4 separate regions of the Homo sapiens genome follow, and regions 2, 3 and 4 are each linked to region 1. Evidence: fine-mapped expression QTL. A gene starts in region 1. Each other region holds a variant in brackets. All regions are shown on one strand. Distances are between the middles of the regions.

Region 1 (8,104 bases):
CATTCCAACACTGTGTGCTCTGGGAAGGCCGCCCCCTACCCCCACACCACCACATTCTGTGTTTAGGCACTGCTGTGTCCCCAATACCTGGGCATTCAGTGGGTGCTCAAGGGAGAGCTGTGAGATAAGTCAAAGGTCATTGGCAACCACTGTCACTTCCGTCTGAAGCTCCTTTAAACTGAGTCTCCTGCACAGTCATACATTAAATGACCTGCTTTGCAGTGTGTCTAGAAGCTGCCCAGGTTACACCTCGGTTTGGGAGGTATGCAAAACAGGCACGCATGACGGTCACTGCTAGGACCCAGGAGAATGGAGCAGTGAGGAACATGGGGTGTGTCCTATGCCATGGGCAAATGGAGGCTTCCTGAGGCAGGTCTGGGCCACTCCTCTCTGTGTGAGACATAAAATAAAGCCCTGCTTCTGGGAGACTCCTGTGGTCAAAGAGCCCAGCAAGAGTATCTGCTCACATGCCCCAGACACAGGAGCTACCGCTAATTTCAACCCCAGGGATACAGGAATAAGGATGCAGTTTGCTTTCAGCACCTCTGCCTTAAGTAGGATCCTATTTTATTCTTAAACCTATGAGGTTGATAAAGTAGGAAGCTCCATGGTGGGTGTACAGAGAAGGAAACTATGCAGAGGGCAGGTGACTTGCCTGAGATCACTCACCTAAAGCACAATGAAGCTCTTTATGGCTGCCCAGACAATTGTATGATATGCAGGAGGTGGAATCCGTTCAGCGAATAAATACTGACTAGGGCCTTCTAAGGACAGGGCCTTTGTGCTAGGGGCTCAGTACTGAGCCCTTACAGCCCTCCCTACATGGGCTGTAAGCTCCTGGATGGGAGGGACCGCACTTGGTCTGTCCCAGCACGCTGCCTGGCCAGGATTCCAGACATGTCCCAGAACAAAGGGGAGGAATTCCCTGTGCCCCATGCCCTCTTGGTGAGGAAAAGGTGCGTGCAGAGGGATGCCTCAAGGGCCATGCCAGAGCTAGGACCAGCCTGGGTCCTAGCTGAGATGAAGGCAGCCTGGGTGCGGTCAAAAACATGGAGCTAAGAGTATGGGCTGTGGTTCTCAAACTGTGTCCCCATGCTCCTGGTGGGGCTTCCAGTGCTGAAGCCGGGTGGGCAGGGAAGCTGAGCAGGCTGGCTCTGCATCCCCTTCCTCACTTCAACTGAGCCCTGTACCTGCTTGGGACATTGGGGGTCCAGGAGTCTGTATTGCATTTTATTACAAAAAAAAAAAAAATCTACCGGTAAGAAAGAAACCAAAGGAAACTTTGAAAACCTGTGTCTACTCCACAAACCATTAGAGGTGTTTGTCCTTGGGCAGTTTCTTAACTTCCTGAGCCCTTGTTTCCTCATCTAGAAAATGAAGTTAATGACACTTGCAGGAAAGTCGTAGCCATGAAGGCACCTGGCAAGGTTACAAGGTCCCTAGAGAATGATAAATGGTCCTAAAAAGGAGGAGCACCACAGGCAGAGAACAAATCACAGGACCCAGAAACCTTTTAACCCGAGACAGCATGCTGGCTGGAAAACAGGCACGTCCTGTCCCTTCTCCAGCCCTACCTGTCCTAGGCAGACTGGACTTTAATCTCCAGGCCCTTAGATGTCACGTCAGGATCAGAAAGTGGAGACAGCTGACCTCATCTAGTTTCCTCCCGCTCCTGCCCCAAAGTAGGGCTTCATTTAAACTCTCTGGCCACCACTGAAACTCCCAGGAATCAAATGAGATCCTGTATATAAAGATGCATGGTACACGGGCCGCTCCCAACTCATGGTAGCTATTAATATTAATAACAATAATAACACATATAGAGTCTTCATTCCTAACCACCCGGCATCTCCACCAGCTTTCAGTGATGCAGGGCCTGAAACGGCTACTGGAGGGCAGCTGGACAAGTGTGCAGTGGAAAAGAAGGGAGCGGGGAGGTCAAGTCCTGCCCCTGACCTAGAGGACCCCTGCAGGGTACCTTTAGGCAATCACTTAAATCTCTCTGGAGCTTAACTGCTCTGCTAAAAATGTAAGCATTTTCCTTTTTCATCTGTAACCTTGCATGATTTCTAGTGACCTATAGAATAGGGTCACTTGACACTACTGGGCTACTGAGTCCAATGTCATGGTCTTCCTCCTATAACCCAGGGCCTCATGTGTTCCCCTTAACCAAAGCACCCCCAGGTAGACAAATTAAGCTCCTCCCAACTCATTCCGCACATCCCCAACATGTCTCCCATATTTGCTCCCCCTCATCACCCACTCTGCCCCTACCCAGGTGAGGCCATCACCATCGTCAACATCCTGGAAGTTCACAGCCTCCTGATGAGCCGGCCTGCCTCTGCTCCTCTCAGCTGCAGCCTGGCCCACCGCTGCCTGCATGACCCAGAACTTGCTTCCTACCTGTGTTTGCCCCCTGGCAAGTCATGGTTGTGGGGATGAAGAGTTATCATCCCGAAGCGGCCGGAGCACCCGCCCTTCACCTGGAGCCTGTGGCCTCCCCAGCTGAGCTCCCACCTTGCTACCAGGCTTCCTCCTCTTCCCCGTCTGGCAACTTTTGCACCTCTTAATTTAGCATTCGCTCCCCCATGCCCTGTTTCCAAGTCTCTCTCCCTACATGGGCTGTAAGCTCCTAGAGGGGAGGGACCGCACCTGGTCTGTCCCACCATGCTGCCTGGCCGGGATTCCAGACATCCCCCAGAACAAAGGGGAGGAATTCCCTGCGCCCCATGCCCGGCTTCGCCCAGGTGCCTAGGTCCTGGCTATAGAAGCGGTTTTGGGGGTGTCCTGTGGGTGGGGTTTCTCCCGTTAGGTAAAGGCAGGAGGAGCCAGTGGGATTTGGAGCCAGAAAGCCCTGGGTTTGAATCTTGATTCTGTTCCTTGGCCAGCCACGGAGGGCACCTTACTTCTGAGTCTCGGTTACCTCATCTATACAATGGGCAGAACGGTGTCTACTAGGTCAGTGTTGTGGCTGAGCGTTTGTACACGAAGTCAACGGGCCTCTCTAATCCTGGAGACAGTCCAGCGGATAGACTCTGCAGCGGGCGAGTTGCGCGGAAAGGAAGTTCGCCCGCTGGGCAGCGGTACCGCCACCCACTGACTTCCCTTTGGGGAGCAGCAGGCCCGAGGGAGCGGGTAGGAATGTGTAGGTTCTTAGCCAACATAAACATCGTGCACTACGCTAAGGAGAAGCCAAATCTTCGGAGACACGGGCTTCTTCCCTCGCCAGAGCCTTTCCCTGAGGTGTCCGCGCGACTCAGCAAGTCCACCCCCAGCCCAGCACCCCAAACGCAGCTTTGGGGAGGGAGACGGTCTTCCTAACCTCCACCCCCAGAAAGGTCTAACTTCCCAAGAGACGCATCCTCTGTTACATAAGCCTCACTTTGCAAGTCGATTCTGTCCCTCCACCCCAGACGCGCCTCATTTCTCACAAAGGGGGACCCTTATGGTAAACTGACCAGTAAGTCACTGGTGACACCAAAGAGAAGAAAAATCTTTCCAAATGAAGTTTGGGAGCCTCGGGTGCTTGCAAGGCCGCGAGCAGAAGCAGCCGGAGTCCGCGCCTCGGGAGCAGCTATGTGAGGCAGGCAGGCCCCCCGAGGTTGCTCCCCGCCCAGCCTCCTCCGGACCCAGGTTTGCAACAGGGGGCGGGCACGGGGGGCGCTCGCACCCCCAGCCCGACGCCGGCGCTCGCGGTGGGTACGCCCCTCCCTCCGTCCTCCCACCCCCAACCTCCCACGGCGGGGCAGCACCCCGGGTCAGCGCCCCGCCAGGCGCCGGCTACCTGCACGCCGACGGCAGTCATGCTGCGCCCGGCGGCCGCGCTGCAGCCTCGATCGCTCCAGCTGCTCCGCTGTGGCCGCCGGCGCCAGCCCGGGACTTCTCCGCAGGGGCGGGGCGGCTGCTGGAGGCGGGCGGGGCGGGAGGGGGCGTTCAAAGCTCGGCGATTAACCCCGGGCGGGCTCCGCCAACCCCGCCGCCCTCCGCGGCTCGGATTACGCTGAGTCAGCGAGGGCGGCCGGAGGAGCCCCTGGGGAGCCGCGGGGAGGACCCGGCACTTGGGGGGAGGGATCCCTCGGGTCCCAGGGGAAAGGATCGGGAAGTCACTCCGACGCTCCCGAACCTCCGAGGACAGCTTCGCCTGGGGCGCAGATTCCTCGAGGGCTGGGACGGCGACGAGGGCCTGAGGGTTCGATTCCTGTTCCAGCTTGCTGAGTCCAGCCTCTGGGAACGCGGCAGGGTCCGAAGGGAGGAGGCAGGCGCAGAGGCTCTGCTGCCCTCACTCTGCGGTGTGACCTTGGGCTGCTTGTTTAGCGTCTCGGAGCCTCGGTTAGTAAGGGAAATAATGAATGTGAAAGGTGGGGCTCTTGCCGGGCCCTCGCTGAGTGTGAACGGAGTGGAACTTTTTGGGGCAATCCTACTTGCGTCCCTAAAAGGGGATGTAAAACCCTGTTTCCTCCTGAACTCCTCAGGGACTATTAAAAATGCAAATATGCCAAACAAATGTGGTTATTTTTTCTCCACCTCGATGGGAACTGAGGTCTCTCTTTTTTTTTTTCTGGACGTTGTCTAGCGCTTGTGGCCCAGGCTGGAGTGCAATGACGCGATCACGGCTCACTGCAACCTTCGCCTCCTGGGTTCAAACCCGTTCAAGCGATTCTCCTGCCTCAGCCTCCCGAGTAGCTGGGATTACAAGCGCGCCCCATCAAGCCCTGCTAATTTTTGTATTTTTTAGCAGAGACGGGGGTTTCACCATTTTGGTCAGGCTGGTCTCGAACTCCTGACCTCAGGTGATCCACCGATCTCGGCCTTCCAAAGTGCTAGGATTACAGGCATGAGCCACCGCATCCGGCCGGATCTGAGTTCTTAAAGAGGCAGCACCTAAAAGCTTTTACCGCCAAAAAGGGTGGAGGTGGGAGGAGTGTCCAAGGGCCACAAATTCCAACAGAAAGGCTTCCCTCCCCCCATCCTCAAATGTGGTGGTAAAACAAGGCCCCTCACTAAATGGCACACATTAAATTGTCTGGTTCACTCAGGCAGGCAGCTCCTGGTGACTTTACCCAAAGACAAAGCAACTGCACTCATCTGTTTTCCCCTTTAGAGCCATGTGAGAAAGAGGGGTAGTTACAATTGTCTGTATATCTTCCACTTAGATATTCATCTGATTCCATCCCTGCCCAACAGACCTTGTCAAATCCTTTACCCCAGTCCTGGAGCTTGACAAACGGAGAAATGGCCCAGGCACAGGAAGGCTTGGCCCAGGCCACCCACATTGAGTCCACTGGAGAGCTGGGACTCCACTTACCCAGCAGGCCTAGTCCAGGTTTGAGTTCTTGCCACCATTCTGCACCAGAGTCACCTGGAAGGTTTGTTAAAACAGATTGCGAGGCCCCACTGCAGAGTTTCTGGCTGAGTGGCCTCAAGTGATGTTGGTGCTGCTGGCCTGGGGGCCAGGCTTTGAGAACCACTGAGCTAAGGCAAAGGGCAGCTGCCCAGGCTCAGCCAGCCTGGTGCCTCTCTGCTCTGGGGCCTTCCCTCCGTGGCCCCCACCTGCTTTCTCCCCAGTCAAGGGTCCCAGAAGCCAGACTCTCCGCAGCTCTGGGTTCTGGATAAAGAGCCCACATGGGAAAGGAAGACCTGTCCTGTTGCGGGGGTATCCTTTCACTGAGCCCTAAGAATGCCCTGTGGGCTCTCCCAGGTGAGATTCTGGATCATAGCATCTCACCTGGCCAAGAGGGAAGTGCCTGGAATTAAAATCAGAAGAACAGTCAGGTCGGGTCATCTGCACCCACTGCCTTCTCCAGTTTCGTGTGTGGTCAGGCATGTTTCTCACAGCCTGTTACGCTTTGTTGGTAAGAATAGAAAAGTATTGAATCAGTAGAATTTAGAGCAACATGTCTTGTCAGCAAGATAGTTGGAGAAGCAGAAATGACTTAAGAATAATAAGGAGGAAGTGACTATCCAGTTCTGATCATCTTATGCTCACATGAGGACTGGGAATATGGCCAGAATTTGGGTGGAATCTGAGCTGAGACTCTAAGACCTGGAGTCTCCTGGTACCTCTCTGGCTTAGGGGGTTGGGGTGGTGCGGGGAGTGGCAGCATCCACAGCCCTCTCAAATCCTGGTGAGATAGCCAGAGGTATTGGGGTCAGAAGTCCCAAAGCATGGCGCTTTGACATACACAACTGAAAAAGCCTCAAGGTCTCTCTGACCTTCCCTCCCCTCACCGTCTCTCCCAAAACACAGGATGAAACTGAAGTTCCTTTATCTGCCTAACATCCAGACCCACCAAAAGGAACAATTGTGTTTCTTCTCCTCCCTGTAGGACTGAGAATGTGACCACACCCGGCAAGTTAATCTCTATTCCCTGATCCATTCGGCTAGCCCCTCTACAGAATTCGTCTTCTCTCCTCTCCCATCACCTGTTCTGCCAGGATAGTATAGAAGCTTCTGAGCACTGCTGAGGGGTGGGCATACTCCGTGATTCTCCCGGGGTGTACACCTTGAATTAATGTATATACCTTTTCTCCATTTAATGTGCCTTTTGTGAGTTTATTTTTCATTGAAACTTCAGAGGGTGAAGAAGCTTTCCCTTAAACCCTGCAGAGACAAATACCGCACCAGGAGAAGAATGTCCAGAGAAGCAGGGAGTTTTAGTGTGAGGGGAAACATGGCAGGGGCAGAGGTGGGGGTTGGATTACCGGGTGGACCCCCAGGTGTTAAAAGCAGAAACAGCATGGGCATGAGTACTGGGCTGTGGGACAGCATGGAGCCTGCCTATTCTTTGACTTTCTCTGCCCTTTGTCCAGATTGTGACAGACTCGGCACTTGACCCTCCCTGACCCCTGCTTCTAGGCCTGGCCAGGGCTGGGGAAAGAGGAATGGCTTAAAGAAAGGCAGGAAGTGGCTCCTTCCCACCCCTCTGACCACTCTTGCCTGATGAGGAAGATCCAGGCATGTTCCTTAGAGAGTTTCAAGTGTATTGGTAGGGACACAATTCCTGATCATTCAGTCAACAAGCACTAGATCTGTTGTTCAGTCAGCAAACACTCTTTCATCTCGGGGCCTTTGTACTTGCTGCTTCTTCTGCCTGAAATGTTCTTCCTCCAGATACTCCCATTTAAGACTCACCAGCTCACTTCTTTAAAGTCTGGGCTCAGATGTCACCTTATCAGAGAGGCCTACGACGACCCCCACATCTAAAACAGCCCCTCCATTCTCTTTTCTCTTCTGCCCACATACACATATTTACTTGTCCTCTCTCCCCCTTTTAATGTAAGCTCCAAGAGGCCAAGGGCATTGTCCTGTTCACCAGTGTATCGCTGGTGCCTACGACAGAGCCAGGCATGTAGTAGGTTCTCAATAAATATTCATTGACTAAATGAATGAAGTGATTGAATACCTACTATGTAGTCACAACTGTCCTGACCAATGAGGGACAAAGAAGAAAAAGACAAAGTCCCTGTCAATGGTAAAGTGCTTGAGTTTTAGAGTCCAAACCTACCTCTCCATTTCTGCTCTCTCCCAGGCCTCGGTAGTTCAGGCTCCACATCCTCCTGCTCTCTTTGCCCTCACGCCCTCCATATACTCCATCCTCTCCTCTCTGCCCCTCCAGTGCCTGCCCGGCTTCAGCCCACCCCAGATCCCCTCCTCTCTAGCCTGGATGCCTGTGGAACAGCCTTCACTCTCACTTCCTCTGTCCCTTCAAGCATCTTCCCATCCCTCTTTTCCAAGGCTCAGGAAGCTTTGGTTCCTGGCCCCCCAGCCCCCGACCTTCCTGCCAAGACCTTCCCCTGGGTGTCTGCAGGGCCTTTTCAGGGGCATCTCCTGACTTTCCCAGCCAGAGTAACACTCCACCCCCCACTTGCCACTCTTTTACCTTTGTAAATTCTTGATCACTAGCTGAAAGTGGCTATTTGTCTATTTCCTGGATTGTCCCTTTCCCTCTCTAAAATATCATGGGCTCCATGAGAGCTGGGACTTTTTCCCTCTTTCACCACTCCATGCCCAGTCCCTAAATACAGGTTGGTCAATAAGGTTTGCTTACAGAAGAACCAGGCTTCTAATGCATTCTGAGCAAATACTTCCCCTCTGTGCTCCTCA
Region 2 (8,104 bases), 36 kb before region 1:
TTCAGATCTGGTCAGAGTGGGATGATTTAATAAGGAGATTCGACAAGGAGTGAGCACTCGTGGTCTTGGAGGGATGGTGAGTGGGCTCTGCCTTCTGCAGAGGAACAGTTCTATCATCGACTTATATGAAGAGAGGGGGCTTATTTGTTTCAAATTTGTAAAATCCATAAAACTAAAAAGGAATAATATCATGATGGGTGGCCGGATGAGGTTCATAAGAAGGCTTTGTACTGCAAATAACACACATTTCTAACTGGTTTAATAAGCACATGTGGCTTGCGTAACTGGAAATGCAGAGAATGGGCTTCAGGATTCTTTGATGAGGCAGCACCACAGAATCACCAGGGTCTGTGTCATTTGCATCTCTCTCCCTGCTGTCCTGGTGGCTTCTTCCTTAGGCTGGCATTGTAAGATGACTGCCATCAGAAATTGCAGCCACAGGCCAGGCACAGTGGCTCATGCCTGTAATCCCACCACTTTGGGAGGTCGAGACGGGTGGATCACTTGAGGTCAAGGGTTTGAGACCAGCTTGGCCAACATGGCGAAACTCTGTCTCTACTAAAAATACAAAAATTAGCCGGGCATGGTGACGTGTGCCTGTAATCCCAGCTACTTGGGAGGCTGAGGCACAAGAGTCGCTTGAACTTGGGAGGTAGAGGTTGCAGTGAGCCAAGATCTCGCCACTGCGCTCCAGCCTGGGCGACAGAGCGAGACTCTGCCCCCAAAATAGGAAAAAACATCCACACAATGAGAACTGTTGGTTTACACTAATCAGTACGAATAATGGAGCCCAGGGCCTTAACCACAACGTTCATGCCAAGATTAAAACTGTAAAATCCCCAAACCAAGGAGCTGAAATTTCATAAAGGAAAATGTAACGCTTTGGACTTAACTCAGAAAAATGATTGTCCAAAAATGGTGGAAAGGAGACCTAGCTTGGCTTCAGCTTGCATTAAAAAAACAAAACAAAACAACAGCTCTGAGATTGGAAGGGTTTCCTGACCACGTGATTCACCGGTCCCTAAATGCCAGTCCACAAATTGGCACGAGTTTTGTTCTTTATTCTGAGATTTAAACCATCCTATTTCTTATTATTAAAATGTCTTTTTATCAACTGAGGGTGAAGGTATGTATTAGTTGCTTTTCTTTTTTTCTTCTTTTCTTTTTGTGACATCCTTACTTGGTATACACCACTATATTATTGACACACAATATTACTGACACCAATAGTGGACTCAGATTGGCAGTAAGACCGCACATAGATGTCACATGGGTAAATAAAATGGGATTTGCAAACTGTAGCTCTTGGACCCAATGAGGCTCCACTGCCTGCTTTTGTAAATAAAGTTTTATTGGAACACAGCCAAGCCCATTCCTACCACAGTAAGGCTACGTTTACATGACAAGGGCAGAGTTGAGTATTTGCAAAAGAGACCACAGGGCACTCAGAGCCCAAAATATTTACTCTCTGTCCCTTAACAAAAAATGTCTGTGACAGATGATCTAAAGGCTACAGAAAGCAGGTGGTACAGTCAGAACATACAGCAGTAAGAGAGGCAACTGAATTCAGGACAGACAACAGTGAGGCTTCTGGGCCCCATGTCCTCCAGGAGTGGTGCACACTTTTAGATGTTAAGAGCTGAGGACTGGCTGGGTGTGGTGGCTCATGCCTGTAGTCTCAGCACTTTGGGAGGCTGGGCTGGGAGAATCACTTGAACTCCTGAGCTCAAGACCAGTCTGGGCCACATAGGGAGACCCTATCTCTACAAAAAAAATTTTTTTAAGTAGCTGAGTGTGATGGCACTTGCCTGTAGTCTTAGCTACTCGGAGGTTAAGGCAGGAAGATTGCTTGAGCCTGGGAGGTTGAGGCTGTAGTGAGCCATGATCGTGCTACTGTACTCCAGCCTGGATGACAGAGTGAGACCCTGTCTCAAAAACCAACAAAAAAAAAGCTAAGGACCGAAGGTCACATGAAACCTTCAGGGAGCAAGGCTGTTTCTGGGTGGGTGAGGTCTTATGGTTCCTACCTTACAAGGCAAGAACGGGTCTACATGAGAAGCGGGCTGGTCACCTGGCAAGCAATGGCCACAGCCACGGGACAGTGCAGAATCTTCTGCATGACACCCCCCTTGTCACCCTGTGCCTCTTCAGGCTCTTGCAGGCTGGTCCAGGTATCCCCAGGAGTGAGGCTGACACCCTCTGCAATGCGGCTCATCTGTACATGGCGAGATTATATGTTAACATATTGGTCCTCAATTTTTTGACATTTCACAGGTCTTTGATGTCCCAAAGCCTAGGAACCATTAATTCAAGGCAACCCACTGCCCTTCAAGGGTCTTCCTCACATCCCTGAGAGGTGACTCCTGGCTCTCAGGAGAGCAGTTACATCAGTGGGGAACTCAATGTCACATGGTAGCCTTCCTATCGAAGGCCACCTCCTGCTGTCAGAAAATGATCAGTCACCCCGAGTCAAAATCTACCTCCTTTCTGGAAACTTCCCCCAACTGGAGCTCACACATGAGGTCTGGCCCTTCTTCTACATGTTGTTCAGTCTAACACTTTTCTCCTCTAAGTGTGTGTTTTTCCCCTCCAGGTGTCATGGACCCAGTTTTTTCATGTACTCTACAGATGACACAATCACCCTCCTCTGGAAATGCTTCAGTTTATTAATGTGACTCTTAAAATAACATGCCTAGCCTCTCCAAACATTCCCACGTGGCCAGCTGCCCACAGCACTCCATCAGTGTAACTGAGAATAAAGCTAATTTTTGAGCCATTTCATGCTCAGACTTCCTACCATCTCAAACCGCTGACTCATTTTGAAGGAGGATGGTGGGATGGGGAAAAATTAAAATTACCATACACTGAGTGTTTCCTACATGCCAAGGCATTGTCTAGGTACTCTATCTGACACTGTATTTGTTCTTCCAACAAGTCTGCAAGGTAGATATTATTATCCCCATTTTGCAGATGAGGAATCTGAGGCTCAAAGAAGTTAAATAATTTGCTCAAGGTCACACAGTTGGTGAGTCACAGTCCGGGTTTGGAACCCTTGTCTCCTGGCTCTGAAGCCTGTGTTCTTTCTCTACAGTACACTGTGTGACACCATGGAGCTTGGGTCTTTCTAACCTCAAGGTTACTTTCCCATGAAGAGCTGTCAGCCAGGTTTCCCCTATTCTATTCTTGTGCCTTCTTAAAAAAATAATTACCCTTTTCTTTTGGTTATAAATAGCCCTTATCCACTGTGGAAAAATTAGAAGTATAGAAAAATTATAAAAGAAAATAACAACTCTATTTGCAAGCCTATAATACAAAGTTAACCACTGTTAACATCAGCCATATCTCTTTACAATCTTGTCTCTCTGTATGTATGAGATTGAACCACATGGAATGGCTGATATTCAGTTTTTTTGTTTTCTTTATTTTTTGTGTTGATATTCAATCATTTTGGATCTACACAAAAGGTAATTTCATATAAATCTTTTTAAAATTTATTTATTTTAAAAATTCTCAGCAGAATCAGTTTTCATATAATTCCCTAATATGTTTTTACATATAGCTGGAATCACATTGCACATGTAAAGTTTGAATTCTGCTTTTTCATGTAATAATATATCAGCATGTCCTGACTCATTTTAAATTCTTGGTAAACAACATTTTATTAGCGGTATACCATGAAAGTAATTTGTATTTGAAATAATTGATGTAACTATTCTATTGTTGGACATTTGGGTTTTTTTTATCACTAATACTTCTGTGATAAACATCTTCATGTATAAATATGCTTTTAAATTTCTGATTATTTCTTAGAATCAATTCCTGAAGGTAGAAGGGAGGTCAAAAGGTCATATTTCAAAGGTTCTTGATACATATTTCTATATTACCTTCCAGAAAGATTGAACCAGTTTTGAGTCCCACTATACCCTCACCTGCAGAGGAAATTATTACTTTTACATATTTGTTAGTTTGGTTGGTAAAAATTATTCTTTTAATTTTTATTCCCTTGATTCTTTTTGATACTTTATTTTTTGGACCTAAATGCAGATCTTTCAATTTTTTTTTTTTTTTGAGACAGGGTCTCCAGCCCAGGCTGGAGTGCAGTGGTGCAATCTCAGCTCACTGCAACCCCCACCTCCCGGGTTCAAGCGAGCCTCCTGCCTCAGCCTTCCAAGTAGCTGGGATTACAGGTGCACGCCACCATGCCTGGCTAATTTTTGTATTTTTGGTAGAGACAGGGTTTCTCCACGTTGTCCAGGCTGGTCTCGAACTCTAACCTCGAGTGATCCACCGACTTTGGCCTCCTAAAGTGCAGGGATTATAGGTGTGAGCCACCATGCCTGGCCAGATCTTTTAATTTTCTGACCAATATTCCACTTAGATCTTTTTGACTCAAAGATGAGCCAATAGTGTGAAGTGGCTGCTGAATAAGTGAATGCCTGCTTGGCTGCATAGGCGCGCAATGTATAGATCAGGGGAGATGGGAGGTGATGGATCCCTTCTACCTCTTCCTGGTCAGAGAATGCATCTGGAGCTTTTCAGCTATGTGGTTCTGGGGGTCTTATTTAAGAAGGACATTAACAAACTGGAGCATATTAATTTAACTAAAGGTTGAAGGATTGTGGAAAGAGGTTAAAGACACAGGGAATATGTATGTATGTATGTATGTATGTATGTATATATTTATTTATTTGAGACAGGGTCTTACTCTGTCATCCAGGCTGGAGTGCAGTGGCTGGATCACAGCTCACTGCAGCCTTGACCTCCCAGGCTGGAGTGATCCTCCTACCTCAGCCTCTGAGTGGCTGTGACCACATGTGTGCACCATTGTGCCTGGCTAATTTTAAAATTTTTTGTAGAGACAGTGTTT[C/T]GCAATGTTGCCCAGGCTGGTCTTGAACTCCTGAGCTCGAGCAATCCTTCCTCCTTAGACTCCCAAAGTGCTGGGATTACAGGCATGAGCCAACGCACCCGACCTGACACAGGGAATATTTGACATAGAGAAAATGAAAGAGAAACAGATGGGCAGAATAGCTGTATTAAAAAATGGCAGGCCTCCCTGTATGACCTTTGTAACTTTTCTATATAAAACCTGCCTTATATAAAAGACAAATCCATTTTAAGTGGATCCAGAAGACAGAAAATGGACCAATAGGTGGTGCAAGTAATTGATTTTAGCTTCACATAAACAAAATCTAATATTTTGTGCTATTTTACACCAAATAACTTTCTCAAAGGGCAGTGAGCACTTTGTCTCTAGAGGTATTCAAGCAAAGGTTTGAATTCAGAGAGTTGGTAAGGGGCCCTATACATAAGATGGAAGTTTGAATTGGCATCAATTCAAACTTAGGGATGATCCTTAGGGATCATCAGATGATCCCTAAGGGCTTTTCCAATGCCAGGATGTTACGGTGTTATGTGTCTGTGAATTGGCGTCCTTGAGGTATGGACAGAATAGCAGCGTCGGTGGGTTCAAGCTGCCTGAAGCGGATGCAGTGAGGCACAGAAGGCAGAGCTAGCCAGGAGGGCCGGCGGGGCTGACACGTGCCTCTCTCTGCAGCACTCCTACCTGCTGAAGCTGAAAGTCATGTACACCGTGGGCTACAGCTCCTCCCTGGTCATGCTCCTGGTCGCCCTTGGCATCCTCTGTGCTTTCCGGTGAGAACACACTGCCAGCTCTCCATACCCCAGCCCTCCTCAGGTACAGACTTTGGGTCTCTTCTCAACCACCCAGGACAGAAAGAGGAAGGTCTGAGTGAACTACCTTGTCGTCTCTTGATCTAAAGCTGACCTATGGCAAAACATCGAGGTTCCTGTGACCTCATTCATCCCTTTATTTTTTCAACATTTACTAAGCACTACTGAGAACTTGCGGCCGGTCGCTTTATATGTATTCTAATTTTCACACAATGCTATGAGATAGGTAACAGGAACCCCATTTTACAGTAGTACTAGCGAGATTCTGTTGCAAGAGACAGAAATCCACCTCGAAACAGCATAAGAAAAACAAAGGCGACCTGACCCATGTAAGTGGCAAGTTCATGGGCATCTGCTGTAGGCATGGCTGGATCTAGGTGTTCAGTGGCATCAGCAGCTAGGTCCGTCTCCCTCCATTCCACTGCTCTGGGTTGGCCTCATCCTCTGGGAGGCTTTCTGCAGAAGTGGCAGAGACAACCACCAGCAGTTGCTGGCATTCATCCTGCTAGCTCAGCAACACCAGGGCCAACAAGAGCCTCTTCCCCTCTGGTTCCAGTAAAAGTCCTCAGAGTTCTCATAGGCCGGGCTTAGGTCACATGCCCAACTCTGAGCCAATCACTATGGACAGCGATGGAGCACTCTGATTGATCAAGTCTGTCATGAGGGTGAGAAGGGTGGAGCCCTCCCAATCCAGAGCTGGAATGGGTTTCCCAGAAGAAAGCCTGTTTCCGGTACCAGAAGAAGCAGAACAAGTAACTGACTTCTGTCCCCTGCAGCAGAGGAGGACACTGAGGCTCCGGGAAGTGAAAAGTCTTGCTCAAGGTCATATAGCTGCTAAGTGGCAGAGCCAGGGTCTGCTTTCTCCCCGCAGCCTGTGTTCCTTCTGTGCCCCTAGCCCTCTCCCGTTCTGGTTGCCGTCCTCACCCCTCCCCCAAAACAATTCTGGGAGCTGGAGATGGTGGTAGGTCAGGGCAGAATACAATGTTGCCCCTACAGCCCCAGCTTTTTATTTATTCATTTAGAGACAAAGTCTTGCTCTGCTGCTGAGGCTGGAGTGCAGTGGCAATGGTAGAACTCCTGGGCTCAAGCAATCCTCCCACTTCAGCCTCTTGTACAAGGAATACAGGCAGGCACCACCATGCCCAGCTAATTAAAAACAAAAACAATTTTTTTGTAGATACAGAAGTCTCAATATGTTGAACTCATGGCCTCAAGTGATCTTCCTGCCTTGGCCTCCCTAAGTACTGGGATTACAGGTGTGAGCCACACTGTGGCTGGCCTTTTTTTTTTTTTTTCTCACTGCAGCATGTAGCAAATTAGACTGGCCACCTGGAGACCCAGTTCCTCATTCAGGTTATGCTCACAGAATGTGTTACCCGGAAAGAGCTGAAGTCTAGGGCCTCAGTTTCCCCAGTGCACTGGTGGCAGGTGGGCCTGGCTGAGTCCCAGCCCCTCAGGCTCTGGCCTCTATGTCCCTACATTCTCTCCCTGCAGGAGGCTCCACTGCACTCGCAACTACATCCACATGCACCTGTTCGTGTCCTTCATCCTTCGTGCCCTGTCCAACTTCATCAAGGACGCCGTGCTCTTCTCCTCAGATGATGTCACCTACTGCGATGCCCACAGGGTAATATGTCTGGGTGCCCCAGGATGTCGCCAGGCCCGCCTGCCTTCCCCAGCCTAGCTTTGGAGAGGGGAGTAGCCTAGTTGTCCTTCCCCCAAGCCCCTGCTGAGGCTGCACTTAATACCAAGGATAAAGCAGCCAGTGCTGACACTGGGCCAGGAGGTTCAGGGAGATTCCACAGCCACATGTGCACAATCTGGGTCATGTAGGAGAGAAGCTCATGGGGGTTGCCGTAAACTCCCAGTGTCCAGGAGTGAACTGGTCACTCTAGGAATTAGATATATAGGGAGACTCCTCTTTTCCCTACTTCTGCCAGTTCCCAGCTGAAGAAAGATGACCCAGTCTGGAGAGGGTGGGGGTTGGTCATAAAAAGAAAAGGGTGAGCATGGGCCAGTATGTCTGTATAAATGTATTTGCAATAAAACGTTGTGTTTTCTTAAATCTAACCCCCTTTCTCCTTCCAAATGCCCAGATGACTCAATTCATTGCAATCACCCTGTGTGTCAGTTGGGATTCCTTTTGCTGCGAATAACAGAAAACTATATATTGGGGTCTTAAACAAATGGGGGCTGTTTCCTACGTAAGCAGTCCACAGATGAGGTGGTGCAATGGCTGTGTGATACCATGAGGGACACAGTCTTTTCCCCTGTTTCCGCACTGCCATCCTTAGAGTAGGCCTTTGATGTCATGCTTTATACCACATGGTTGCAATATGACTGCTGCAACCCCAGGCCTCCTGTCTGTGTTCCAGGCAAGAAGGAGAAAGGTAAAACGTTAAACATTTTTTTA
Region 3 (8,104 bases), 48 kb before region 1:
GTTCAGGAAACGATCAACACTGTGGGGGGCTAGCAGCCAGGTCTGCTGCCACCAAGGCCAGCCTGGAGGAGGCAGCCTGTCCCAGGCTGGGGAGATGGGAAGGCTGAGTGGGATCCCAGCTCCATTATCACCAGCTCTGTCACCCACACTTCTCACTTCCCCCTCTTGGAACCTCAGCTTCCTCATCTCCGCCGTGGGGCAGTGACCCTACTCACCCTTGAGCTGCTGTCAACCTCAGCTCCAGGATGTCTGATGTGCATCCAGCACAGGCCTGGCATGGCCTGTCCCCAGGCATCCCTGGGGGCCCTGCCTGACGTGACCCAAGTTAGGAAGCCTCTCAGACGTGCTGGCACCGTCCACATCTGTCTGGCCAACCAGCCAGGCATTGTCCAGCCTCATGGCCTGGAGCCTGCGGCTGGTACCCTGGCTGACCTGGCCAGTCCAGCCAGCACTGAATCTGTTTTTCCACAAGTGAGGCAAAAGGCTCCTGCCTTTTTCCATGCTCTGGAAATGCCCCAGCTGCTTCCAATGCAAGAGAGGCTGACCCGAGCTGGCAGGGGAGCTGCAACTTGAAACGAGGCATCCTGCTGCAACCCTGAGACGGCCGCACAGGGAAAGAGGGCTCTGGGTCACCCTTGGCCTCCTGAGACTCCAGGTGCCAGGCTAGGTCAGCACGGAGACACAGAGTGGGCTGTCCGTAAAGGGTCCTCAGGACCAAGTCCCCATCCCACAGGCATCTGGGTAGGCCCAGGGTTACCCGGCAGGCCTGCTGAGTTCCCGAGACCCTGCTCAGGCCCAGCCAGCAGCGTCCACAGCTGGAATGTAGACGGGCAGCCTCGGGATAGTGGCGGAGCCGTCCCTGGGGAGTGCACAGCAGAGAGAAGCTCCGGCTCCTCCTCTTGCAGGTGAAGCTTCTGGAACATCCAAGGAGTTCCTCATCTCCCATATGCCTCCAAGGACACAGACCCCTGCCCCTTGGCCTCATAGATGCTTCCACTGTCCTGTGAAAGCTCCGCCCACACACTGCCTTCTGTGTCCCTCTACAATTCTACGACACCCTTGCTCATGGTTGCAGCCTGCCCTTGTGGCTCCTGGGACTGCCCCGCCTCCAAAGCCCCCACAGGCGTCCTGATTTCAGGACTGGGTTCCTCTCTGGGCCCTCCCACTTCCCCTCTCCTGCTAGGGGCTGGGCCTCTCTTCAGGGAGAAACAGGCCACACCTGCCCCGCTCTAGGCCAGCATCCCCCCTAACCCAGGCCCTGGCCCGGCCCACCCTACCGTTCCCTACCCCTTCTGTCCCTCTCCAGTTCCCAGAGCCTGGCTTGAACAAGGAGGGCACTTGGCAGCTGGGGCCGGTGTCACCTGGAGACTGGTCAGGTGGGTGGAGGGCTGGGTGGAGACAGCTTTCATCCCCTCCATGTCCTGGCTGTGTGGCCTGGGAAGCCACTTCTGGCTCTGCTTGATTGCTGCGTTTATAAAGTGGGGGTAGAGCCAGGCACATCGGGAACTGGGGGCACCGCCATGGGATTACAGGAGCTCAAGTGTGGGACGCACAGGGCTCCTCCCCATCAGCACAGCACCAGAGCTGGCAGGCCCTGGATGCAGAATGTAGAAGTCAACTGGGTGTCAAGGTGAAAGCCCGTTTATGAGGGATGCCTGGCGGGACTGGTGTGGGAGGCAGTGGTTCCAGCTGGCGTCCCTTCATTTGTTCATCTGCTGTGTTTGCTGAGCACTTGTGCTATGCCTGGCCCATCGTAGGCACAGGGGCGTGCTCTCCTGGGCTCTCTGCCTGGTGGTGGGGGAGGCATCTGTACCCAGGTACCAAGGTGAAGACACAGCTGGTAGTGACCCCCACTGGTGGGTCTGTGACTGCCTGTCTCACTCTCTGTGAATTGCTCCTGGGAGCCAGGGGTAGGGCTAAGCCTAGAAATGAGGAACCCTCAGCTGTGAGGAGCAGGGAGACTCAGAGTGGAAATTCTCAAAGCAAGCCCTGGAACCACTTCAGCGGCATTTTTGGGGAATTCTTAAAATGCAGATTCCTGGGTCTGGTCTCACAAGGAGGATCTGGGGCCTAGAGATCTGCATATCTCTGACAGGCACCCAGCTCATTCTGATGTAGGCTGGAGGGTCACACTTCTGCAATGGGACAGGTCACCAGGGAGATTTCACTTAGAGGGGATGAAGGGGTCAAGGACACTATGGATGCTTTGGGTCTGGTCAGATTGATGCCTAAAAACAGGTTCTTGCTCCTTAAAAAAGCTGAGCATTTGCCATCTGGGTACTCCCGCAATGTCTGCACACCGCATCCATCGCCCAGTCCCCAGAGCTAAGAATTGCCATTCAGGGGACCCAGCCTAGTCCAACCTCCTGAATCCAGATGAAAAAGGAACAGGCCTGGGGAGGCCAGCGGGAAAGGGGTTGCCAGTCCCAGTGCCTGCTCTGGGCAGGCTTTTCAGTTGGGCTTTGAGCTCTTCCTCTGGATAGCCTCAGGAGGGAGGTGCCGGTCCTCCCACAAGAGATAAGCAAGTGAGCAGGGCAGCTGGCAAGGTGGGGGAGGCCTGGAGGCCGGGTCGGCCGACTTGAGTCCTGGCTCTTTCTTTTTGGGCTCTGCCCTGCACCATGTTCCCCAAACGGGAGGAGCGCTGACTGCGGCTCGCCTCATGGGTGTCCCTCAGCTCATTTCTAGCCCCTTCCAAGCCTGACCCCAGCGATGACCTCTCAGAGGGCACGGGTTCCAGAAGTCTGTTGCAGGAAGCAGTTTCCCTGTGTGGCTGCCCTTGGATCAACTTTGGGAGAATTGGTGAGTTGTTATGTGAAATGATGTCTTAAAAGACAGTACAGTCACAGCTCACACACAAATATAAAATGAATACCTGCCGAACAGCTTGTTTAATTTGTGAGGGACTCAGTAAGATCTTATCACTGGTTCATAGCATTCAAAGTAACTGATATGGTTTGGCTATGTCCCCACTCAAATCTCATCTTGAATTGTAGCTCTCAGAATTCCCATGTGTCATGGGAGGGACCTGGTGGAAGGTAATAGAATTGTGGGGGCAGGTTTCTCCCATGCTGTTCTCGTGATAGTGAATAAGTCTCATGAGATCTGGTGGTTTCATAAACGGGAGTTTCCCTGCATGTGTCCTCCTGCCCACCGCCATGTAAGAAGTCCCTTTGCTCTTTCTTCGTCTTCCACCATGATTGTGAGACCTCTCAGCTATGTGAAACTGTGAGTCCGTTAAACCTCTTTCCTTCATAATTACCCAGTCTCAGGTATGTCTTTATCAGCAGCATGAAAACAGACTAATACAGTACCATACCTATAAGGCAGAATGATAACATGAATTTACAAATAGATGCAAAGCTGACTGAATACACAGGGAGGGAAGTGAAATTAATTGTATTTCAACTGGACAATAATTATTGTGCCTATGGACGAGAATCATTTGCATTGCTACCAATCATCTAGAACTTACAGAGTTGCAGTGTAGCTCGAAGACAATAAAAGACCTGACACCCCATTGAATCAGATAATCCAGAAGGCTGTGCTTAGACAATGCCTAGTTTTGCATTGAAAACACCTAGTAATTTTTTTTATTCATCTTAAAATCTTTCAGTTTTCAGAAGTGGGCCACGCATCTGGCTCTGAGCTTCCTAGCAGCCAAATCAAAGAGGAAACCAGCTTCAAATGTAGTGTCTATGTATACTAGTCGTTCACAATAAGTTCAGCTTCTCACTGCATTGAGACCT[G/A]GTTCTCCTTCCAGAGGGGCCTCATCAAGGGAACTCAAGTGATGTAGAAAGCAACATCCTCAATAATATTCTTGCAGCAAATACAGTGGTGACACTTGTGGAGCTGTGTCCATAGGCCAGGGCAGTGGCTCTGAGTGTGGTCCCAGGACAAACAGCATCAGCATCACTTGGGAACTTGTTAGAAATGCAGATACTCAGGCCCCACCCCAGACTTACTGAGCAATCTGTGTTTTAATAATCCCTCTGGGTGACTCTGATGCAAGCTGAAGTTTGAGAATCATGGGACAAGAGTTCTCAACCCTGCAGTCAAACGTTAGAATTACCTGTAAGGCTTTCAAAGGACATGATGCCTGGGCCCACCCAAACCAATTCATGCAGGATCCCTGTGTGCCACGCCGGCTAGGTCTATTTCTAAAGCTCCCCAGGTAGTCGTACCATGAAGCTAGAAGGGAGACCCATTGCTGCTTAGTTGTTTAATGCAAACTGATTGGCCAACAGATGTGCCATCTGCTCCAGAGAAATCCAGACCTTTACTTGCAAAGCTTATAGGAGAGGGCGCCTTCCTTCTTTCCTTCTTCCCTTCCTCCCTCCCTTTCTTACTTCCTTCTATCTTCAACACTGAGCACTACCGTGTACATGGCAGAGTCCAAGGGTGCATTAGACAGGATAGGTTCCTGATCCTGAGGAGTCAGCACCTAATGAGAGCTTTGAAAGTAGTCTAGTGGGAATTCCAGGCAGGCAAGGGTGTCGGTGATGTGGACAGGATGGTAGGGCAGCCCTCGGTCCATCCCCCATCCTTGTCTGATGCTGCTTTTCTTGGCAGGTTGTGAGGGGATGTGGGACAACATAAGCTGCTGGCCCTCTTCTGTGCCGGGCCGGATGGTGGAGGTGGAATGCCCGAGATTCCTCCGGATGCTCACCAGCAGAAATGGTAACCACTCGGCCCATGGGGCCTGGCGGACAGGCTGAGGGGTGTCCCTCTGGGTGGGGCCTCAGCTTAGAGGCAGGAGGCCAAGGAACCTTCTCTGAGGACAAGTATGGGTACAATGATGGGGGAGATCACTGCAAAGGATTAGAAGCCTTGCTTGGGAATGTGGGGTGGACTCAAATTCTGAGGGTGTCAAGCAAGGGGGCAGGAGGCAGTGCACTGGGGAAGGCGATAAGGGAGGCTGGGCCTGCTTCTGTCTTCCCCAGGCCCTTCAGCTAGGAGCTCTCTTCCTTCCTTCCATGTTTCTGCCCCCTTAGCAACCAGGGGCCTTGTTCCAGTCCCCATGTCTGGAACCCCTCCTGGTAGTGGCAGGCTCCCTAATGGCCTGGCCTTCCAAAATACTTCCTTCCACTGTCAGGCCCTGCTGAGAAATTGGCTCCCTGGGAGCCCCTGGCCTCCTGGGGCGAGGGGTTGTCTTACCAGAAGACAGCTGCGGATTTAAGAATTTTCCTAGTTGACTCACATTGATTAGAAGTCGACCATGCACTGGACATTTTTATATGTACATACGGGCTCATTTATTCATCATAAACCCCCTGCAGATCACAGGACTTTTCCCTTGATCCAGTAAAGAGTAATAATAACAGGGACTGAGAAAAGCTGTGCAGCTGCCCCTCTTTCCTGGTCCATGCAGGACAGCAAAGCTGCCAGATGAAGCCTGAACAAGAATAGGTGATTTAACACTAAAACCCACCAGCCTTTCAAAGTCAGGCAAGGCAAAGATGACCACGGTTCAGAGACTGTGGGAAGGGAGTGGAGATTCTTCTCACCATAATTCTGCTGTACATACGCACATGTGTGCACACACACACATATTTGGGGAACATGCTGCTCCCTCGAAGCCTCACTCAACACCCTACACTATGGGAACTGGGGGAAATGAGGTAGACAGGCTTGAAACCCGCTCCTCCAATTCCTGGCTTGGTAATGCTAGCTGCTGTAACAGACAATGCCCCACATCTCAAAGCCTTCATGCAAATTTGTCCACAGAAAGTCCAAAACAGGCTGGGTGCGGTGGCTCACACCTGTAATCCCAGTACTTTGGGAGGCCGAGGTGGGCGGATCTCCTGAGGTCGGGAGTTCGAGACCAGCCTGGCCAACATGGTGAAACCCCATCTCTTCTAAAAGTACAAAAATTAGCTAGGCGTGGTGGTGCACACCTGTAATCCCAGCTACTCAGGAGGCCGAGGCACGAGAATCACTTGAACCTGGGAGGCTGAGGTTGCAGTTAGCTGAGCTCGTGCCACTGCACCCCAGCCTGGGCGACAGAGTGAGACTCTGTCACAAACAAACAAACAAACAAACAAACAAACAAAAAACGTCCAGAACAGGAAACAGGTATTCCTGATTAGCAGGCAGCTCTCCTCTACACGGTGACCCCAGCACCCCACACCTCACAACCGTGGCATCACATAGTTTCCAGGCTGACTGGCGGAGAGGAAAGAACTCGGAGGACCACACAGCAGAGGTTCATAAGGGGCGGGCCTGGGAAGGATCCCACTCTGCCCACATTCCCTCGGCTAGAACTCAGTCACATGGCAACATCTAACTGCAAGGGACCTGGGGAAATGTCTTTTAGCTGGGTGCCAGTCAGCCCCGGGATCCAAGTTGCTCACTGCTGGGGAGCCTCAATTTTCTTGACTGTAAAATGGGGAAAATAAATAAGACCTGCCCTGTAAGGCTGTGCTTGGAAATAAATTTTGTCCCTTCTCCCCTACTCCTCTCCCTTCTTTTCCTTTTTCTCCTTCCCACCTTCCCTCCCCTACCCCTGCCACACACACCCCCGCAAGCTTACCAACTTTACCTGCCAGCGTGGCCCCTCCATGCTTGCCTCTGGGGTCCTGGGAGCTCAGGACACAGGAGATTAGTCCAGATGTGGCGGACCTAGAGCCCCAGGCTGGTCAGGTGCAAGGTCACGCCCAGACTCCACTTTCTGACTCCTGTGCAGTGCTCCTCCACAGCTGACCGGGTTTTTCTCCTGATGGAAAGGACTCGAAGCTCTTCTCCTTTGCAGCCGTCCCTTTTCAGCCTTCCCAGAGCCACAGCACCTCCGCCTCCCGCAGCACTGTCCCTTCTGCCCTGCAGAGGGGATAGGCGGAGCTGGTGCTCACGGCCACAAAGTGACCAGGTGCCAGTCCTGTCACATCCTTTCTCAATTAATTGCTTGAACCCCTCCCTGCCTCATTACGTAAAGGCTCAGTGTCTCCCTCTTGAGGCTCCCCTACCCTTGGATTGCTCATGGTCCGCGGCAGGAAGCTGGACCATGTCCACACAACGTGAGGATGGAAGCTGGGGTCCTGTGCCGACTCTGCTGCAGTTTCTTCTCGCCGCCACATGGTGTCGCTGTGGGCCTGCAGGGCCACACCAAAGGCCTGCCTATTGGGCTCTGGGCTCCCTCCAGGGTGGTGGGGGCCACGTTGTTCATACCCAGCCTGGGGGTGGGTGGCCCAAGAGCACAGGTCAACAGCTGTCTGGCCTCAATTTATCATCAAGAACTCCCACCCACCCCTCCTTCATCCCCATAGATCTACTTCTGGGTCTGATTAGACTCCTGCCCCTTCATCTCCCGGCAGGAAGGCAGGCTTCCCTAGGTGGTGCCCCCAACCCTAACCCCAGGGGGAGCGCCCAGTGAGGACAAGGTGCTCTGGAAAATAAATTAATTCTCCTTGAGGGCACCTACTACATGGGTCCTGACAGGAGGGGTGGGGTCCATGTGACTGGAGAAACCGCAGGCCGATTCTGCCCCCAGATGTTTCTGTTCATGCCAGGCCTAGAATGCTCCCTCTAGGGTGTATTCCTTTGATTCTGAAAAGGACGCTGGTCTTCCAGAGTTCCTTATTAAAAAACACAATTCCCCAGCGGCATCCCCTTGGCCCTCTTTCTCTTCCTACTTAGTGAGGATCTGGCCTTAAAGCGGTCATGCTTCCCAACCTGATTAGGGTCCCGGAGCCTTCTGAAAATCAGATGAAAGCTTTGGACTAGTCTTTCCCCGAACTGCATAAATATATATCTATATATCTATATATTTATATATATGCACATAATATATATATTTATTTTATATTTATAATATAATACAAATATAAATATAAATATCTATTTATATTATATATATAATATAAATATCTACATCTATATATATATATATATGCACAAACATCCTTTCAGGGGTCCCCTGAGGTGCACACTGGCCTGTGCCTGGTTAAGTTTCCCTTACCTATTAGGAATTCAGCCCTGGGGAAGTGGGGAGGCAGCTGCTTTGCAGCTCTACAGAGTGGAAGGCAGGGGGCCCTGCCTTGTTAGCAGCTCTGGGCACCTGGCCTGGGTCACATGCAGCATCTGTCTTGGGAGTCCTGCTGTGTCAGTGAGG
Region 4 (8,104 bases), 46 kb after region 1:
CGAGAAACTGGCTCATCTGGTCTTGTGGCCCCCATCCAGGAACTGACTCAGCACAAGAGCACAGCTCCCTATGATTTCATCTCCAACTCAACCTGTCAGTGCTCCCATGTTCTGACCCCCTGCCCACCAAATTATCCTTAAAAACCCTGATCCCCTAGCTTTCTGGGAGACTGATTCGAATAATAATAAAACTGCAGTCACCCATACAGCTGGCTCTGTGAGAATTAAACTATTGCAATTCCCCTGTCTTGATAAATCAGCTCTCTCTAGGCAGTGGGCAAGGAGAACCTGTTGGGTGATTACACTTTTCTTTCTTTTGTTTTTTTTTGTTTTGTTTTGTTTGAGACAGTGTCTCGCTCTGTTGCCCAGGCTGGAGTGCAGTGGCATGATCTCGGTTCACCGCAGCCTCAACCTCCCCAGGCTCAAGCAATCCATCCACCTAAGCCTCCCCAGTAGCTGAGATTAGAGGAGTGCACCGCTATACCCAGCTAATTTTTGTATTTTTAGTAGAGGTGGGGTTTTGCCATGTTGCCCAGACTGGTCTCAAACTCCTGAGCTCAAGTGATCTGCCTGCCTCAGCCTCCCAAAGTCAGTTACACTTTTCTATCAAACTGTTGGATTCAATTTGCTAATATTTTGTTGAGGATTTTGCATCTATGCTCATAAAAGATACTGGTCTGCAGTTTTCTTTTCTTGTAATGTCTTTGTTTGGTTTTGGTGTTAGGGCAGTGCTGGCTCCATAGAATGAGATAGGAAACCTTTGCCCCCTTAATGGTGTTTCTTACTGTCACTTAAAATTCGATTTAGGAAAAAAGGTTTTCTCTGTTCCTAAACAAAAAACAGGATCCTGGCAGGCCCTATAGTTTGCCAGTTTCCTCCTACATAGTAAAGTGTCCTTAGATGGAGTAAAAGAAGTCTCACACACAAAAATACAAATATATAATTTCATCTATAGGAAGTTGTAGAACAGGCAAAACTAATCTGCGGTAGAAAAAGCCAGAGCAGAATTTGCCTCTAGGACCATGATGACAGATATTGACTGGGAAGGGGCATGAAGGAAATTTCTGGATGTAATGTTCTATATTTCGATAGGGATCTGGGTTGTACAAGTATATGCATTTGTTAAAACATCACACAGTACACGTTTTTGCATGCAATCTGTGGTATATAAATCTTTCCCTAAGGAAATAATGGACTGTAAATAAATACTGAACTTTGATTAATAATATACATGATTCAGTTTTTTGGGGAAGCATACTGACATCGGCAACTTATTTTGATATTCACAGAAAAAATAATTTAGATTGCTTGAGAGATAGAGGGATGATGGATAGGTGGATTAATATATGATAATGCAGCCCGGTGCAGTGACTCATGCTTGTAATCCCAGCACTTTGGGAGGCCGAGGCAGGAGGATTGCCTGAGGCCCAGGATTTGAGACCAACCTGGGCAAAATAGCAAAACCCCATCTCTACAAAATGTTAAAAAAAAAAAAAAAAAAGCAATTCGTGTAAAATGCTGTGAGAAAATCTATGTAGTGGACACATGGGTGTTTGCTGGAAAATTCTTTCAACTTATTTTCATAATAAAATGGAGAGAAATAACAAATGGAAAGTCCTTTAAAGTTTGGTGTGGCTAAAAGAATGGTCTGCGTCCTGGCCCAGGCCAGGTGGTCTTATCACTCCATCATGTGGCTTCTGCAGATCCCAGGTCCCAGTTCTGTCCTGCAGTCTGTCCCGTGACTGTCTCCACTGGAAATGGTGTCATCTGCTCACAGCCCCAAACACCATTTCTAGATGACTCATGGCCTCTGCCCACGCAAGATCTACAGGTTCTCTTTTAAGCTTTTGAGTCTTGATCACATGTATCGTTAAGGAGATTGCTTCCTCAGTAGCTATTGGCAGCAATGCCAGCACTGGCTTGGTTCCCTCTGAGCGCTGCATCAGGCCTGCTCTGCCAAGCGGAAAATGCTGCTCTGCCCAATGGGCAGAAATGAGGATAAGGGGGCATTTCCTGGCAGGCACAGCTCCACTCAACACCTCTGCTGACTCCAGAGGGTTCTGGGTTAACCATTTAACATATACTACCTTAGTTAATGGAAAACATCTGACCTGCTGCACCCTGGCAGAAGTAGACTTTGAAGTGGAGAGCTGGGACTGAAAAAGAAAAAGTCTGTGGGAAGAACTCCAAAATACAACAGGAAGGAGGAAACCAGAAATTATGCAAGATGGCCCCAAGGGAGAGAGAGAGAGCGATAGAGAGAGAAAGACTGCCTCTGAAGCAGCAGAGGCCGCTAAAGAGAATCCTGGAGAAGGCAGCCATCAAACCTTTTTCACTTTCAAGGGAGCCTGAAACTGCAAGCTACAACTTACCGGCTGAATTATAAAAACAACAATGTTTAAAATAATAATATTCAGTGCTAGCAAGAAGTTGGTGAGAGGGCACTTTTATACATTACTAGTAACAGGTTTTTACAAAAATAATTTAACAATATGTATAAAAGATCATACATTTTTACTCAATAAGTTATATCCAAGAGTATATCTATTCTAGGGGCAAAAAAAATGTTTTCAAAGATCCATGTATAAAGATATTTAACAGGCTGGGCGAGGAATCCCAGCACTTTGGGAGGCCGAGGCGGGCAGATCACAAAGTCAGGAGATCGAGACCATCCTGGCTAACACGGTGAAACCCTGTCTCTACTAAAAATACAAAAAGAAATTAGCCGGGCGTGGTGACGGGCACCTGTAGTCCCAGCTACTTGGGAGGCTGAGGCAGGAGAATGGTGTGAACCCGGGAGGCGGAGCTTGCAGTGAGCCAGTGAGCCGAGATCGCTCCACTGCACTCCAGCCTGGGCGACAGGGCGAGACTCCGTCTCAAAAAAAAAAAAAAAAAAAAGTTTAACAAATTATTATAATAACAGGAAAAATAGGGTATTGCTTATAGTGTACTAATTAAATTATAGTTTAACAATGCGATGCAAATATTATGCAGACATTTTTCATGATATACTTTAGGGGAGAAAAATCAGGTTTAGAACTTTATACACAGTATGATTCCCATTATGTGCTAAATGATTATGAGAGATTATTTGTTCTCTTTTTATAGTTTTCAATATTTTCTAAGTTTTCTGCAATGCATGCATATTGTTTTTCATATTTGGAAAAATATTTCTTAAAATGCAGCAGTTTGGAGATGGGATGTGAAGATTTCTCTCTGGGGATTGAGAAGGCAATATTGCCAAGGCTTGTTTAATATCTCTTAAAAATCAATTTGCTTAAGGATAAGCTTGCTATATTAAAATTAAAAAGAAAGAAAGAGATGAAAAATCAATTTGCAAATCTTTTTTCTTTTCTTTCTTTTCTTTTTTTTTTTTTGAGATGGAGTTTTGCTTTTTGCCCAGGCTGTAGTGCAATGGTGCCATCTCGGCTCACTGCAACCTCCGCCTCTGGGGTTCAAGTGATTCTCCTGCCTCAGCCTCCCGAGTAGCTGGGATTACAGGCATGCTTGTATTTTTGGTAGAGACGAGCTCGTCTCTACTAAAGTTTCTCGAACTCCCGACCTCAGGTGATCTGCCTGCCTCAGCCTCCCAAAGTGCTGGGATTATAGGCGTGAGCCACTGCTCCTTGCCTTCTTTTCTTTTTTTAAAAATCTTTTTTACAGTCTGTCCAAGAATATGGCAAAATTTGCAAATTTTTTGCTTATACTGTAAAGACAGTGCAGGTTCCAGTTTAGATTCGTACTGATGGAAATGTTGAGTCTGTGGGTAGGCGGAACAAAGCCTACTGCTGAAGAGCAGGGCTCTGCCTGCATTCGGCTGGGGCAGATGCATTATAAAACTTCCCGAAAGTGTAGTTGTAAGGCAGGGCTATGAACTGTGTAGACAAAACAGAAAAACCCCATTCCTACAAAATGTTTTTTTTTAAAAGAAAAAAAAGATAATGCAACTAAAGTAAAGAAAATCTGTGTAGTGAATACACAGGAGTTTGCTGTAAAATTATTTCAACTTTTATGTATGTTGAAAAAGTTTCATAACCGTCCATAGTGGCAAAGGTTGCTGCTATGCTCTCTTGCAACACAGACAGCTTTAGTGACAAATTTCCACCATCCACAGGGAAAGTGAAGGGCCACTGGAAAAGAAGGAACAGGGGAAAGGGAACTACCACTTATGGAGTCTTGTGGGACGTGTGTATAATGTTGTTGTAGCCAGAAAATGACAGAAACCTCTCTCGTACCAGCATACACAAAAAAGAGTTACATTGGAAAGGACAGTTTGATTGAAGCTTCATGTGATAATATGGAATCTCTTGCAGCTTATATTTTCCAAAAATGGCTGCAACAATCTCCCATCCCATGGGCCTTTCCTACAATATGACTTTGACTTTCCTCCCATGAAGAGATGGGGTTTATGTTCCTTCTCCTTGAATTTGGGTGGGCTTATGACTATGGCAGAAGGGATGCTGTGTGATTTATGAGGCTAGGTTATACCAGGTGACACAAATTCTGCCCACTCTCTGGGGACAC[C/T]GACTTTGGGAACTCGGCCACCATGCTCTGAGGAAGCCCAAGCCACATGGGGAGCCAGGTGTAGGCGTCTGGCCAATCGCCAGCATCAATCATCTACCAGACACATGAGTGAGGAAGCTCTGTGGGACTCCAGCCTCCACCATCAGGTGCAGCCTTGGGAGCCATCCTGAACAAGACCCACCCAGGTGAGCCCAACTAACCCCAGAGCCATGAAAACAATAATAATAAAGTGATTGTTGTTATTTTAAGCCACTAATTTAATTTCTGAGGTGACTTGTTACACAAAAATAGAGAACTAGAACAATGTCCATCTCTTAGCTCTTCCTCTCTTTTTTGTTGAACTCATTCTCTCCTGGTGGGTGGCAGGGTGGAGGGAGTGGCTAGAGTAAGCTCCAGGCTTAGCATCTCCATGAGAAAGAGATTTTTCTTCTAACGTCCAAATACGATCTCAGAGGACAGCTAGTGTGTTGTTGACTCCTATGCCCATCTTTGGAACGTCACTGTGGCCAGAGGAATGGGATTCTGTGACTGAGGCTGCCATTTGTTCACTCCAACATACATTTCCTCCTTCCCCTGGTAATGACATAAATTCTCCTGATTTTATTCATGTTGGCAATGTGCCCATCTCTCTTGTAGCTAGGGATGGCTAGGTGGTTAAATTCTGGCCAATGACAGGTGTGTGGTCCTTTACAGAAAGATCCTGTATCAGCTCCTATTATTGTAACAGATCACCACAAATGCAGTAGCTTAAAACAACATAAATTTATTGACTTACAGTTCTGGAGGTCAGAAGTTTGATATGGGTCTCACCAGGCTACAATCAAGGTGTCTGGGGGGCTGTTCCTTCTGGAGGCTGTAGGGGAGAATCTGTTTCCTCACCTTTTCTAGATTCTAGAGGCTGCCACGTGCCTTGGTTAGTGTCTTCTTCCATCTTCAAAGTCAGTGATGGCTGACTGAGTTGTTCTTACATCGCACCATCCTGACATTGCCTGTTCTGCCTATCTCTTCCACACTTAAGGACCCTTGTGATTACACCGGGTCCATCTGGATAATCCAGGCATCTCCCCACCTTAAAATCAGCAGATTAGCAACCCTACTTCTCCTTTCCATGCAACCTAATCTATTCACAGGTTCTGGGGGATTCAGACACGAACCTCTCTGGGTAGATCATTATTCTGCTAACCACAAATCTTTAAAAAGGAAGGGTACCCTTTTATCCTTTCTTCTCCCTTCCTGCTGTCTTGAATGGACTCCTGATACATCCACTTCTGGGATGAGGTACTGTGGCTGGCAGCCTGCCAGAAGCACCTTTTGGCAGTTGCTGCAAAGAGAGAGGAACTGTTCTTAGTAGGCTGAGAGAAGGATGCCAGACAGACAAAAACATCAGATGTTCATTATAAACATCTGCTGCAATAATGCTGCATGATCAACAACCCCTAAGACTCAGTGGCTTACAAGATTTATTTGTTAATTTCTAGCTCACAGGCCTTCAGTTGATGGTGGCTCTGCCAGGCTTATCTGGGATCAGTTGGACTTGCTCAAGGCTGTGGTTAGCTTCAGGTAGGCCTTGCTTATCTCTCATGTACCTGGCAACAGTGGCTCCTTGGCATCTTCTTCCCATGGCAGATGGCAGAAGTTCAAGAGGGCCGGCTAAGCCACACAAGCTCATATAAAGCTCTTTCCTGGATCATGTCTGATCACATGCCGTTGTGCAAAGCAAGTCCTATGACCAAGCTCGAGTGAATGGGTGGGGACGAGCAGTTCACTTCTGGTGGGCACACTTCAGGTTGGAACAGTGAAGGGCACAGACAGATAATCCTTTACGGAGGGTGCCAGGGGTTGGGAACAATCATCCAATTTACCACAGTGAGCTAAGCCAATCCACTTCCCTCATCAGTGAGGAAGTTTTGTAGGGATGTCTCTTCATGCCCACTTGACCTGGAGGAGTGCTACAGTGATTTTCTTCCCACTACATCCCATGCCCACTATTTTTAAAAATACTGAAAAGTGCAGAGACTAATGTAACAAATACGGAATACAGGCTCACAACCCAAATGTAAGAAACTTTTAGGCCAGGCACGGTAGCTCATGCCTGTAATCCCAGCACTTTGGGAGGCTGAGGAGGGTGGATCACGAGGTCAGGATTACAAGACTAGCGTGACCAACATGATGAAACCCCGTCTCTACTAAATATAAAAATTAGCCAGGTGTGGAGGTACGCGCCTGTAATCCCAGCTACTCAGGAGGCTGAGGCAGGAGAATTGCTTGAACCCGGGAGGCGGAGGTTGCAGTGTGCCCAGATCTCACCACTGCACTCCAGCCTGGGCGACAGAGCGACACTCCATCTCAAAGAGCCCCTTAAATTTGTGTCCTTTTCATTTTCTACTTCTGGAGCACCAAATTTTTGAGACTGTCACATAACTATAAATGCAATAGTTTCTGTTCCAGAATCCTGGGTCCCATACCCTAGGACTTTACCATACTTACCTAATATGGGCACAGCCCTGACTAACTACAGTAACTTTATTACCTAGGAATTGCATTTGTCTGCGTGTAGCGGTCTCCTGAAAAAAGTGGTTTAAACACACAAGGATCTATTATCTTACGGAATAAATTTTGAGGTAAGTAGCCTAGGGATAATTCAACACTTCTTCAGAGCCACCCGGAATTGAGATCCTTTTATCTTTCTGTTTCCATCCTCCCTGCTTTTAGGATAGGAGAGAGCAGTCTTCAGCATGAGACCCATCCCTAAGTAAGTAGCTGATTTGGGATTTTGTCTTGGCTAAAGTTAACAACCAGCTGGTCTTAGTTTCTCCTTACCATTAGAGTGCTCAGTAATCACCTAAGTTGTACAATTGTTTGTTTTGCTTAACTTTTTGTTGTTGTTGTTTGTTTCTGTTTTTGTTGTTGTTTCAGTCTTTTTCCCATTGGGTTTGACCAACTCTATATCTGACTTGATCATATCCAAAGGAAGGTTCCAAATTATGGGGAACAAGTGACTTCAAAAGTGACTTCAAAAATGACATAATTTGGCTTATTTGGAACAAAAATTACACAGGAAGTATTGTCAAATATAAAATGGTGTCTGGTTTTCTTTGGACTGTATTTGTATAAATGTTATTGGTATGTGCTCCAAAATTATGGGAAACTTCTGTAATTCTTATGTGACTTAGTGTACATTATCAGTAATAATCATAATTGTAACGTTAAAATTATTGTGTGAGACAGAGGTAACAAATTTCCTTGTCAATTGTGTCTTTGACTATGGCTGCCCTAAAACTTTTTCTCACCCATGGACAATTGTTGTCTTGTTTTGGTCCTCTTTAGAAGATGATTTTATAATCAGCTATAAAACTCTAACAGGTGCTCTTGAATGCAGGTTTCGATAACTTTGGAGATTGTGGCATCAGAATAGAGGAAAAACTTTCAGGACTCATGGAGAGCTAAAATGTTCATGAATATCAAACAGAACAGGAGTTAACTGCCTGGACTGAACTAATCTTTTTGACTTTTTGCTTAAAACGTTGCTGATCCTTTGTTTTGTGTTTCAGTCTTGAAAATTTCTTTTGAGCTATTGACA

Evidence for each region.
Region 2: its variant is fine-mapped to the expression of TMEM37 in whole blood (TOPMed, PIP above 0.99).
Region 3: its variant is fine-mapped to the expression of TMEM37 in whole blood (TOPMed, PIP above 0.99).
Region 4: its variant is fine-mapped to the expression of TMEM37 in lung (TOPMed, PIP 0.99).

Annotation. Positions count from the first base shown.
Region 1 is chr2:119,427,605-119,435,708 of GRCh38, reverse strand. It overlaps TMEM37 (transmembrane protein 37), which reads right to left and starts at 3,855. Exons shown (of 2, transcript NM_183240.3): 1 at 3,785-3,855. The coding sequence starts at 3,805. RefSeq lists an enhancer at 2,914-3,420 and a silencer at 3,704-4,083.
Region 2 is chr2:119,463,337-119,471,440 of GRCh38, reverse strand. SCTR (secretin receptor) reads left to right here. Exons shown (of 13, transcript NM_002980.3): 5 at 5,555-5,652; 6 at 7,186-7,318. Among named protein-coding and RNA genes, the nearest start is that of SCTR-AS1, 9.1 kb to the left of the region's middle. The variant C/T (reference allele first, on the strand shown) is at 4,868.
Region 3 is chr2:119,475,384-119,483,487 of GRCh38, reverse strand. It overlaps SCTR (secretin receptor), which reads left to right. Exons shown (of 13, transcript NM_002980.3): 3 at 4,570-4,677. It overlaps SCTR-AS1 (SCTR antisense RNA 1), which reads right to left and starts at 7,034. Exons shown (of 2, transcript NR_147847.1): 1 at 6,530-7,034. RefSeq lists an enhancer at 2,038-2,549. The variant G/A (reference allele first, on the strand shown) is at 3,747.
Region 4 is chr2:119,381,656-119,389,759 of GRCh38, reverse strand. No RefSeq gene overlaps it. Among named protein-coding and RNA genes, the nearest start is that of DBI, 19 kb to the right of the region's middle. The variant C/T (reference allele first, on the strand shown) is at 4,525.